Regions from separate parts of the Homo sapiens genome. Here region 1 is linked to region 2. Evidence: fine-mapped expression QTL. Tissue or cell type: left ventricle. Region 2 holds a variant in brackets; the other region holds the start of a gene. All regions are shown on one strand. Distances are from middle to middle.

What was found. PIP is the estimated chance that this variant, and not a neighbour inherited with it, causes the effect.
Region 1: PDCD1 starts here. The variant in region 2 is fine-mapped to the expression of PDCD1 in left ventricle (GTEx, PIP 0.94).

The regions. Positions count from the first base shown.
Region 1 is chr2:241,856,785-241,861,908 of GRCh38, reverse strand. PDCD1 (programmed cell death 1) reads left to right here and starts at 3,015. Exons shown (of 5, transcript NM_005018.3): 1 at 3,015-3,146. The coding sequence starts at 3,071. It overlaps LOC124908032 (a long non-coding RNA gene), which reads right to left and starts at 2,837. Exons shown (of 2, transcript XR_007088436.1): 1 at 1,832-2,837. RefSeq lists an enhancer at 2,847-3,809.
Region 2 is chr2:241,821,976-241,827,170 of GRCh38, reverse strand. No RefSeq gene overlaps it. Among named protein-coding and RNA genes, the nearest start is that of NEU4, 15 kb to the right of the region's middle. The variant A/G (reference allele first, on the strand shown) is at 2,391.

The DNA.
Region 1 (5,124 bases), 35 kb before region 2:
GTGTGGGGGAGATTCTGTGTGTGTGCTGGGGATTGGGTGTGTTGGGGATTGTGTGTGTATTGGGAATTGTGTGTGTGTTGAGGATTGTGTGTGTTGGGGATTTGTGTGTGTGTTGGGGATTCTGTGCATGTTGGGAGTTGTGTGTGAGTTGGGGACAATGTGTACAGAGGATTGTGTGTTGGAAATTTTGTGTGTGCGTTGGGAATTTTGTGTATGTGTTGTGGATTGCGTGTACGTTGGGGATTGTGCATGTTGGGAATTTTGTGTGTGTGTTGAGAATTGTGTGTGAGGGAATTGTGTGTGTTTGAGATTGTGTGTGTATTGGGAATTGTGTGTGTGTTGAGGATTGTGTGTGTTCTGAGGATTGTATGTGTTGGGAATTTTGTGTGTGTGTTGAGGATTGTGTGTGTTGGGGATTCTACGTATGTTGAAAGTTGTGTGTGTGTTGGGATTGTGTGTGTGTTGTGGATTGTGTGTGTTGGGAATTGTGTGTGTGTGTTGAGGATTGTGTGCAGGGGGATTGTGTGTGTTGGAGATTGTATGTGTTGGGAATTTTGTGTGTGTGTTGGGGACTGTGTATGTTTTGGGGATTGTGTGTGTTGGGAATTTTGTGTGTGTGTTGAGGATTGTGTGTGGGGGGATTGTGTGTGTTGGAGATTGTGTGTGTGTTGGGGACTGTGTGTGTGTTGGGGACTGTGTGTGTTGGGGTGTGGTGTGTTGGAAATCGTGTGTTGGGGACACCGTATGTGTTTGGGGGAGGGTGTCAATAAGTGGTCTGGAGTGTGATATTGGGGTGCAGGCTCCATGAGTCCCCACCCCACACCTGAGCCCTGGGACCGCCTATCTGCTTCGGGGTGGGGTCCCAGGACCCTGTAGGTTCAGCCTACTAGTCCAGGCCCAATGCCCAATGCCTGCATCCCTGCAGGCCCTGTGCTCTCCAGGCTCAGACCCCTCGCAGCCCTGCAGACCCTCCCTGGGTCCATGTGTCTCTTTGCAGGTGCTCCAGCGAGTAGCAATGTGGAGAGACCATCAGGCAGCCCTGGCCTCAGTGGCCGCAGTCCCCTGGCTCCACGCTGGGCCCACCCCACCAGGTCTCCTCTCCCATGGCCCAGGGGCCTTCAGTGGGACTGAGAGGAGGAGGGAAGGAGAGTGGGTGACAGGGAAGAACTGCAGGGAGAGAGGAGAGGGGTGGGAGAAGGAGAAGGAAGGAAGGGGTAGGATGGAAGCTGGGTTTCTCCCTGTGCCCGCCCCCTACTCCAGGACATGTGTCCAAGCCCTGGCAGGTGGAATTTTGGGGGCAGGGCCTTGGTGGTGAGGAGACCTTCCAGGGGTCTGATAGCATCTCCCATCTCAGAGCCCACCTCCTGGGCCCAGCCTCCCCTCCAGCCCACACAGTGGCATTCCCAGTCCTCAGAGGACAGCTTCGTCCCACAAAGCTCAGAGCCTTGAGGAAGGCCCACTGCTGCCCTGGAACAGAGACAGCATTCAACAGAGGTTGGAACAAGGCTCTACAGGGCTGGGGGCAGAGGGAGGTTCTGTCCAGAATCTGCCTTCAGGACAAGTACAGCCAGCAGGGGCAGCTTAGCCACTTATCCACTGCCTGGGCGAGGCACAGGGCTATGGAGGCACCTACCAACCAACAGTTCTCCAGCCCCAGAGCCCCAGCCCCTGAGGCACAAGGGTGGGTGTGCCAGGAGACAGTTGCTGCGGGCCACCTTAGCTGTCTGGCAGCACAGTGGGTGCTGCCAGGCTCCCTGGGGGCCCCCCGCCAAGCCCACCTGGCCAGCTGGGCCCCCCCCACCTCCCCACCAAGCCACCCACACAGCCTCACATCTCTGAGACCCGGGAGTGGCCCTTTGTTCATAAACGAGAGCTTCCTCGCCGTGGCCGCGCCTCGCAGACATCATCTTTGATGCTCTTTTTCCACTGTTTCGGTGCTTTAATGTTTTCCCTTCAGAGCCGGGCCGAGTGTCTCTCGGAGCCAGGCAGCCGCGCCAGCTGTCAGGCGGTTTCTAGCCTCGCTTCGGTTATTTTAAGCTGATGAGCCTGACGCATCTCATCACTAATATCAGCAGTTTCATTTCTCCTGTTTTCCATTCGCTGTAATAAAATGCTCAGCACAGAATACAAGGAGATAAGCAAGCCATTTCACAAACGCCGGGCCGCCAGCCAGGCCCAGGCACTGGACCCCCTGAACCACCCCACCCTGGCACGAGTGGGCTGGAGGGCAGGGCCCCGGGGAAGAAGGTCAAGGCTGGAAGGGGAGGTCAGCCTCACAGCCAGCCCCTGCCACCGCCCCAGCCCCCCCGTCAGGCTGTTGCAGGCATCACACGGTGGAAAGATCTGGAACTGTGGCCATGGTGTGAGGCCATCCACAAGGTGGAAGCTTTGAGGGGGAGCCGATTAGCCATGGACAGTTGTCATTCAGTAGGGTCACCTGTGCCCCAGCGAAGGGGGATGGGCCGGGAAGGCAGAGGCCAGGCACCTGCCCCCAGCAGGGGCAGAGGCTGTGGGCAGCCGGGAGGCTCCCAGAGGCTCCGACAGAATGGGAGTGGGGTTGAGCCCACCCCTCACTGCAGCCCAGGAACCTGAGCCCAGAGGGGGCCACCCACCTTCCCCAGGCAGGGAGGCCCGGCCCCCAGGGAGATGGGGGGGATGGGGGAGGAGAAGGGCCTGCCCCCACCCGGCAGCCTCAGGAGGGGCAGCTCGGGCGGGATATGGAAAGAGGCCACAGCAGTGAGCAGAGACACAGAGGAGGAAGGGGCCCTGAGCTGGGGAGACCCCCACGGGGTAGGGCGTGGGGGCCACGGGCCCACCTCCTCCCCATCTCCTCTGTCTCCCTGTCTCTGTCTCTCTCTCCCTCCCCCACCCTCTCCCCAGTCCTACCCCCTCCTCACCCCTCCTCCCCCAGCACTGCCTCTGTCACTCTCGCCCACGTGGATGTGGAGGAAGAGGGGGCGGGAGCAAGGGGCGGGCACCCTCCCTTCAACCTGACCTGGGACAGTTTCCCTTCCGCTCACCTCCGCCTGAGCAGTGGAGAAGGCGGCACTCTGGTGGGGCTGCTCCAGGCATGCAGATCCCACAGGCGCCCTGGCCAGTCGTCTGGGCGGTGCTACAACTGGGCTGGCGGCCAGGATGGTTCTTAGGTAGGTGGGGTCGGCGGTCAGGTGTCCCAGAGCCAGGGGTCTGGAGGGACCTTCCACCCTCAGTCCCTGGCAGGTCGGGGGGTGCTGAGGCGGGCCTGGCCCTGGCAGCCCAGGGGTCCCGGAGCGAGGGGTCTGGAGGGACCTTTCACTCTCAGTCCCTGGCAGGTCGGGGGGTGCTGTGGCAGGCCCAGCCTTGGCCCCCAGCTCTGCCCCTTACCCTGAGCTGTGTGGCTTTGGGCAGCTCGAACTCCTGGGTTCCTCTCTGGGCCCCAACTCCTCCCCTGGCCCAAGTCCCCTCTTTGCTCCTGGGCAGGCAGGACCTCTGTCCCCTCTCAGCCGGTCCTTGGGGCTGCGTGTTTCTGTAGAATGACGGGTCAGGCTGGCCAGAACCCCAAACCTTGGCCGTGGGGAGTCTGCGTGGCGGCTCTGCCTTGCCCAGGCATCCTTGGTCCTCACTCGAGTTTTCCTAAGGATGGGATGAGCCCCATGTGGGACTAACCTTGGCTTTACGACGTCAAAGTTTAGATGAGCTGGTGATATTTTTCTCATTATATCCAAAGTGTACCTGTTCGAGTGAGGACAGTTCTTCTGTCTCCAGGATCCCTCCTGGGTGGGGATTGTGCCCGCCTGGGTCTCTGCCCAGATTCCAGGGCTCTCCCCGAGCCCTGTTCAGACCATCCGTGGGGGAGGCCTTGGCCTCACTCTCCCGGATCGAGGAGAGAGGGAGCCTCTTCCTGGGCTGCCCGTGACCCTGGGCCCTCTGTGTACACTGTGACCACAGCCCGCTCCTGGACCCTCTGTGCCCGGCTGGCCCTCTGTGCCCAGCCAGCCTGCACCTGGGGATGCCAAGGCCTGGGGAGGGTGGTTTCACCCAGGCCAAGCCTAAGACAGTCCCTCTGGGCCCTGCTGGGTACCGGGGTGTGACACCACTGGGAGGACAAGATGAGGGGCACCCCTGGGGCCGCCCTGACACCCCCTCGAGGCTCCTGCCCCGGGGGTCCTGGTGCCCCTTCACTGTGGCAGGCGACTGGGGGTTCCCCACCTCGGCCCCTCTCCCGGGGCCTGCTCCCCGGCACCTGAGGCAGCATCCTTGTCAGGGCCGTGCCTTCCTGCCTCAGCGCCACCTCTTAAGGTTGGCCCGTGGGTCACTCAGGACTCAGAACTGGAGATTCTGGGCAAAAGGCAAAGAGCAAAGGGCCAAAAGGCATCCCAGGGAGACGACTGCGGGGGAACCAGAGGGCAGAGGGGCGCTCGTCACAGGGGAGGGGGAGCTGAGCGAGGCAGGAGGGGAGCCGAGCCTCTCCCCCCGTGTCCCGGCTCTTCAGGCACGCCCTCGGGACGCCACCCTCCCCGACCCAGGCGGGAAAGATAAGAGCAAGGTGTCCGCAGCCTGACACTCGTGCCTCAGGTGCCCGCGCTTGTGCCGGACAAGACTCTCACAGGTGGCATGCCTCGGTTTCCCCACTGGTAACAGCACAGGGCACTCAGCAAGGCGCAGTGGGCATGACTGGGGTCCTGTGGGTCCTGACCCAGATGTGGCCACCCCGGCCGCAGTGGTCTTCATTCCAGGATGCCTCTTTTCCCTCCTGATCTATTCACTGCGTTCGCCATTCGGTCATTCCCGGGGCCACCACTCCCACCTCAGGTGTGTGCTTCCCTTGTGTTTTATGAGATATCCCCAACCCGGCTGCTTATTGGCCCCGTCCGAGGGCAGGAGCATAAATAAGAGCCTCTGCTTTGGCGTGGGACCACTGTGAGCTCCAGTCAGCGCTGCCACTGCTGAGCTCTGGGCCTTCGACAGGACTTGGCCCCTTACTGACTTCTCCGTGTGCTTTGGGTCATGGGTGAGGACGCCTCCTGGCAAGGCTGCGTCCTGAGGATTAAATCGGGTCATCTGTGAAAACTACCCAGCCCAGCCCCTGACACTTTTTTGTTTGTTTCTTTTAGTGACAGGGTCTTGCTCTGTCACCCAGGCTGG
Region 2 (5,195 bases):
TTTCTCACATTCCAGGCACTCAGCGAGGTGCTGGGGTAGGGGAGAAACAGAAAGATGACAAAGACTTGGTTGCCACACTCAAAGAGCTCACAGCCTGGTAAGCAGAAAGGTGGTCCTGCATTTGCCTCTGGACCACCAACCTAGATGAGGGAAAAGGCTCTGAGGAGTTCCATGGTAATGCTGCTTGGAAGTGAAGTCTGAAGTCAGGACTCCTGACTCCAGGATTCACATCCACCCTGTTTCATTAATGCCAATTGAAGGACACTCTTTATCTTGGGCACCCTGGAAGAAACCCCCCAGCCAGTTTCCTATTCCCTTCCCCATGGGATCTGCCTGTGTAGACAGTCCTCCGTCCTTCCCCATCATCCAAACCATTCTTGATAAATAGCTCAGATTTTGAAGATAAATGACAATAACAGCCCCACCTCATTCTGCATTATTTACAATTTTGTTCTTGATGCCTTCCAGAGCCCACTCCCAACCCAGGGCTCAGTTTTGTTTGTTTGTTTGTTTGTTTGTTTGTTGTTGTTTTGAGATGGAGTTTCACTCTGTCACCCAGGCTGGAGTGCAGTGGCGCAATCTTGGCTCACTGCAACCTCCACCTCCCAAGTTCAAGTGATTCTCCTGCCTCAGCCTCCCAAGTAGCTAGGATTACAGGCACCCGCCACCATGCCCAGCTAATCTTTGTATTTTTAGTAGAGTCGGGGTTTTGCCATGTTGCCCAGGCTGGTCTCGAACTCCTGACTGCAAGTGATCCACCCGCCTCGGCCTCCCAAAGTGCTGAGGTTACAGGCGTGAGCCACTGCACTCGGCCTCTGTTTTGTTTTGTTTTGCAAATGCCATCTATTAAGGACACCCACCTCAAATATGGTAGTGGAGAGTTTCTATTGCATGGAGCCTAATAGAATCATGTTTTCTGGCAAGGAAAAGGGAAATTAGCAAGCATGGAATGGGAGGTTTGGATGCTGTTGTTTGGCCAAGAAGCTCACTCTCACCTGCTCTACACCCAAGACTGGCAAATAACATGGTGTACCCATCACACTGGAAAAAGAGTAAAAAGGCAGATAATGTGAAGTACCAGCAGGTGTGCAAGGACACAAGCCTTCCCATGCATGACTGATGGGACAGGGATGGCTATTTCCTCTGAGAAAGAATTCTCTATTAAAATAAAAATGATAGAGCTGTTTTGCTCAGTCACCCCACATTTGGGAATCTATCCTACAGAAATCAAAATTCCAGTTTGTAAGAATCTATGTTCAAGAATATTTACTGAAGCTATTTTTGTAGTGGTAAGGAAAAAAATAGAAATAATCTTTATTTCCCTTGATAAGGAAATGTGGAATACATTTCAGCACATCTACACTCTAGAATCCATCATGCAAGTTTTTTGCTGATTTTTTTTTGTGATAAAATACACCATCTTAATCATTTTTAAGTGGCCGGCTCAATGATGTTAAACTAATTCCCAGTGTTGTGCGGCGATCACCGCCATCCATCTCCAGAACTTTCCATCTTGAAAAACCAAAGCTCTGCCCTCATTAAACACTTGCTCCCACTCCGCCTCCCCCAGCTCCTGGAAGCCACCATTCTACTTTCTATCTCAAGAATTTGACTCCTCCAGAGACCTCATATGAGTGGAATCATACGATATCTGACCTTTTGTGACTGGCCTATTTCACTCAGTATAACATCCTCGGGGTCCATCCATGTCATAATAACTGTCGAATCCCCTTCCTTCCTAGGACAGAATCATATTCCCTTGTATGGATGGACCACGTTTTGTTCACTTACCCATGGATGGACACTTCAGCTGCTTCCCCATTTTAGCTATCGTGAGTAACGCTGCTGTGAACCTGGGTGCACATGTATCTCTGAGACCCTGCCTTCAATTCTGCGGGGTAACTGCTGGATCATACAGTAATTCCATCTCTAAGTTTCTGAGAAGTGATATGGCTACTGTTTTCCACAGTGGTTGCACCATTTCACACTCCCACCAGCAGCTCTCATGCAATTATTAAGAAGAATGAGGGCCGGGCGCTGTGGCTCACGCCTGTAATCCCAGCACTTTGGGAGGCGGAGGTGGGTGGATCATAAGGTCAGGAGTTTGAGACCAGTCTGACCAACGTGGTGAAACCCTGTCTCTACTAAAACTACAAAAAATTAGCTGGGCATAGTGGTGCGTGCCTGTAATCCCAGCTACTCAGGAGGCTGAGGCAGGAGAATCACTTGAACCTAAGAGGTGAAGATTGCAGTGAGCAGAGATCACGCCACTGCACTCCAGCCTGGGCGACAGAGTGAGACTTCATCTCAAAAAAAAAAAAAAAAGAAGAAGAATGAGGCTGGGCACAGTGGCTCACACCTGTAATCCCAGCACTTTGGGAGGCTGAGGC[A/G]GGCGGATTACCTGAGGTCAGGAGTTTGAGACCAGCCTGGCCAACATGGTGAAACCCCATCTCTACTAAAAATACAAAAATTAGCCAGGCGTAGTGGCAGATGCCTGTAATCCCAGCTACTCAGGAGGCTACAGCAGGAGAATCGCTTGAGCCCGGGAGGCCGAGGTTGCAGTGAGCAGATATCACAACACGGCACTCCAGCCTGGAAGACAGAGACTCTATCTCAAAAAAAAAAAAAGAAGAAGAAGAAGAAGTAGTCAGGATTCAAGTATTGAAAGATGTCGATGTCATTGGTCAAGCTCCCAGGGTGGGGGTTTGCAGGAGGGAAGCTGGCTGGGGATGCCTTGGGAACCTGAAGAAGCAGGAACAGCTGAGCACGAGGGTCAGACAACGCCGGGGGCCGAAGCCCCGGGCTGAAGGGACCGGGCCTGGTCCCCGCATCGCTGTGCAGTGATAGCAGCTGACGGTCTCGCTTTGGGAGAAACGGGAGATAGATACACACACACTGACATTTACATTTCACTTGTGTGCGTTCGGGGAAAGCTGCGGAATGAATGGGACGGAACGACACTCTGGTCTGAGCAGGTAAAGCAGGTGCTTGGGGCCACGAGAACTTTTTTAATCACATCAAGTGGAACACGCTTGAGACAACGGTTTCGGAAGCCACGCAGGTGCGCTGCGAGATCGTTTCTACCACCTGAGAACCGTCAACAACAGAGGACTTGCCGGGCCTTGATCTCCACATCTGGAAAACAGACACGTTCTCCACCCCGCGGGCCTTTATTTCATACTAAACGGAACGACGCGCTTGAAGCACGTGGCGTGGAGCGAGCCTTCTGCGCATGCGCAAATGCTTCCTCCTCGCCCCTCTGCGCACGCGGCAGGAGCAGAAAGTCAGACAAAGAGAACGTCGTGGAGAAGAACACAAAGGGAGACAGAGACACAGAGAAAGAGAGAGACAGAGACACAGGGAGACAGAGACACAGAGAGAGACACAGAGACACAGAGAGAGACACAGAGACACGACAGAGACACAGAGTCAGAGACAGAGAGACAGAGATACAGAGACAGAGAGACACAGAGACAGAGACACAGAGAAAGAGAGAGACAGAGACACAGGGAGACAGAGACACAGAGAGAGACACAGAGACACAGAGAGAGACACAGAGAGACAGAGACACAGAGTCAGAGACAGAGAGACAGAGATACAGAGACAGAGAGAGACACAGAGACAGAGACACAGAGAAAGAGAGAGACAGAGACACAGGGAGACAGAGACACAGAGAGAGACACAGAGACACAGAGAGAGACACAGAGAGACAGAGACACAGAGTCAGAGACAGAGAGACAGAGATACAGAGACAGAGAGAGACACAGAGACAGAGACACAGAGAAAGAGAGAGACAGAGACACAGGGAGACAGAGACACAGAGAAAGAGAGAGACAGAGACACAGAGAGAGAGACAGAGACACAGGGAGACAGAGACACAGAGACAGAGACACAGAGACAGACACACAGAGACAGACACACAGAGAGACAGAGACACAGAGTCAGAGACAGAGAGACAGAGACACAGAGACAGAGACACAGAGAAAGAGAGACAGAGACACAGAGACAGACTCAGACACAGAGAGAGACAGAGACACGGAGTCAGAGACATAGAGAGACAGAGATACAGAGTCAGAGACAGAGACACAGAGACAGAGACACAGAGAGAGACAGGGACAGAAAGCGTCAGAGACACAAAGAGACAGAGACAGACTCAGAGACAGAGAAAGAGAGACAGAGACACAGAGACAGACTCAGAGACACAGAGAAGAGACACGGAGTCAGAGAGACAGAGACACAGAGTCAGAGACACAGAGAGACAGAGACACAGAGTCAGAGACACAGACAGACACAGAGTCAGAGACACAGAGAGACAGAGACACAGAGTCAGAGACACAGAGGGAGACAGAGTCACGGAAAGAGACAGACACAAACACAAAGAGAGACAGCCCAAGACACAGAGACAGAGAGAGACACAAACACAAAGAGAAACAGAGACAGACACAGAGACAGAGAGACAAGGACAGAGAAAGGATGGGGGAGGGAGAGAGGGAGCAAGAGAGTAACTCCCAGCTGATTAAACACAGCAAAGAGAGAATTCGTGAACTAGAAAAAAAAAAAAGCCAAGGAAAACCAACCAGAATGCAGCACAGACACGAACGAGAAGGAGAGTGCACAGCAGAGGGCCATGCGGATGGTGAGGGGTCCCACACCTGCGTCCTGGAGCCCAGAAGGCGGGAGCAGGGTGGGACCCTGGTGGCCACACAGCTGTTTCCCGAGGCTGCATAGCAAATCACACAGACCTGGAGGTTGAAACGACACAAATGCATCCCCAGAAGTTCTGGGGGCCGGGGGTCTGACATGGCCTCCCCGGGCTAACATCAAGGGGTCCGCAAGGCTGGTTCCTCTGCAGGCTGTCCGGGCTTCGCTTCCCGTCTTTTCCAGCTTCCAGAGGCCACCGGCTCCTCAGCTGTGGCCCCTCCTCCATCTTCAAACCCAGCTCCAAGGCCTCCTCCCTCCTCTCCCACCCTTTGTCCCCTCCCATAAGGACCCTGGTGAGACCCTGGACCCACCCAGATGACCAGGATGATTTCTCACCTCAAGACCCTCAGCCGGCCCCCTCGGCGCAGCCCTTCGCCATGACGTCATGGTGCAGGCCCCGGAATGAGGATGCAGACGGCTTCCGGGCCCTTGTTTGGCCTATCAGACATCAAGGCTGTTTAACATCTTCCTGGAGGTCCTTGCCAGCCCAGTAA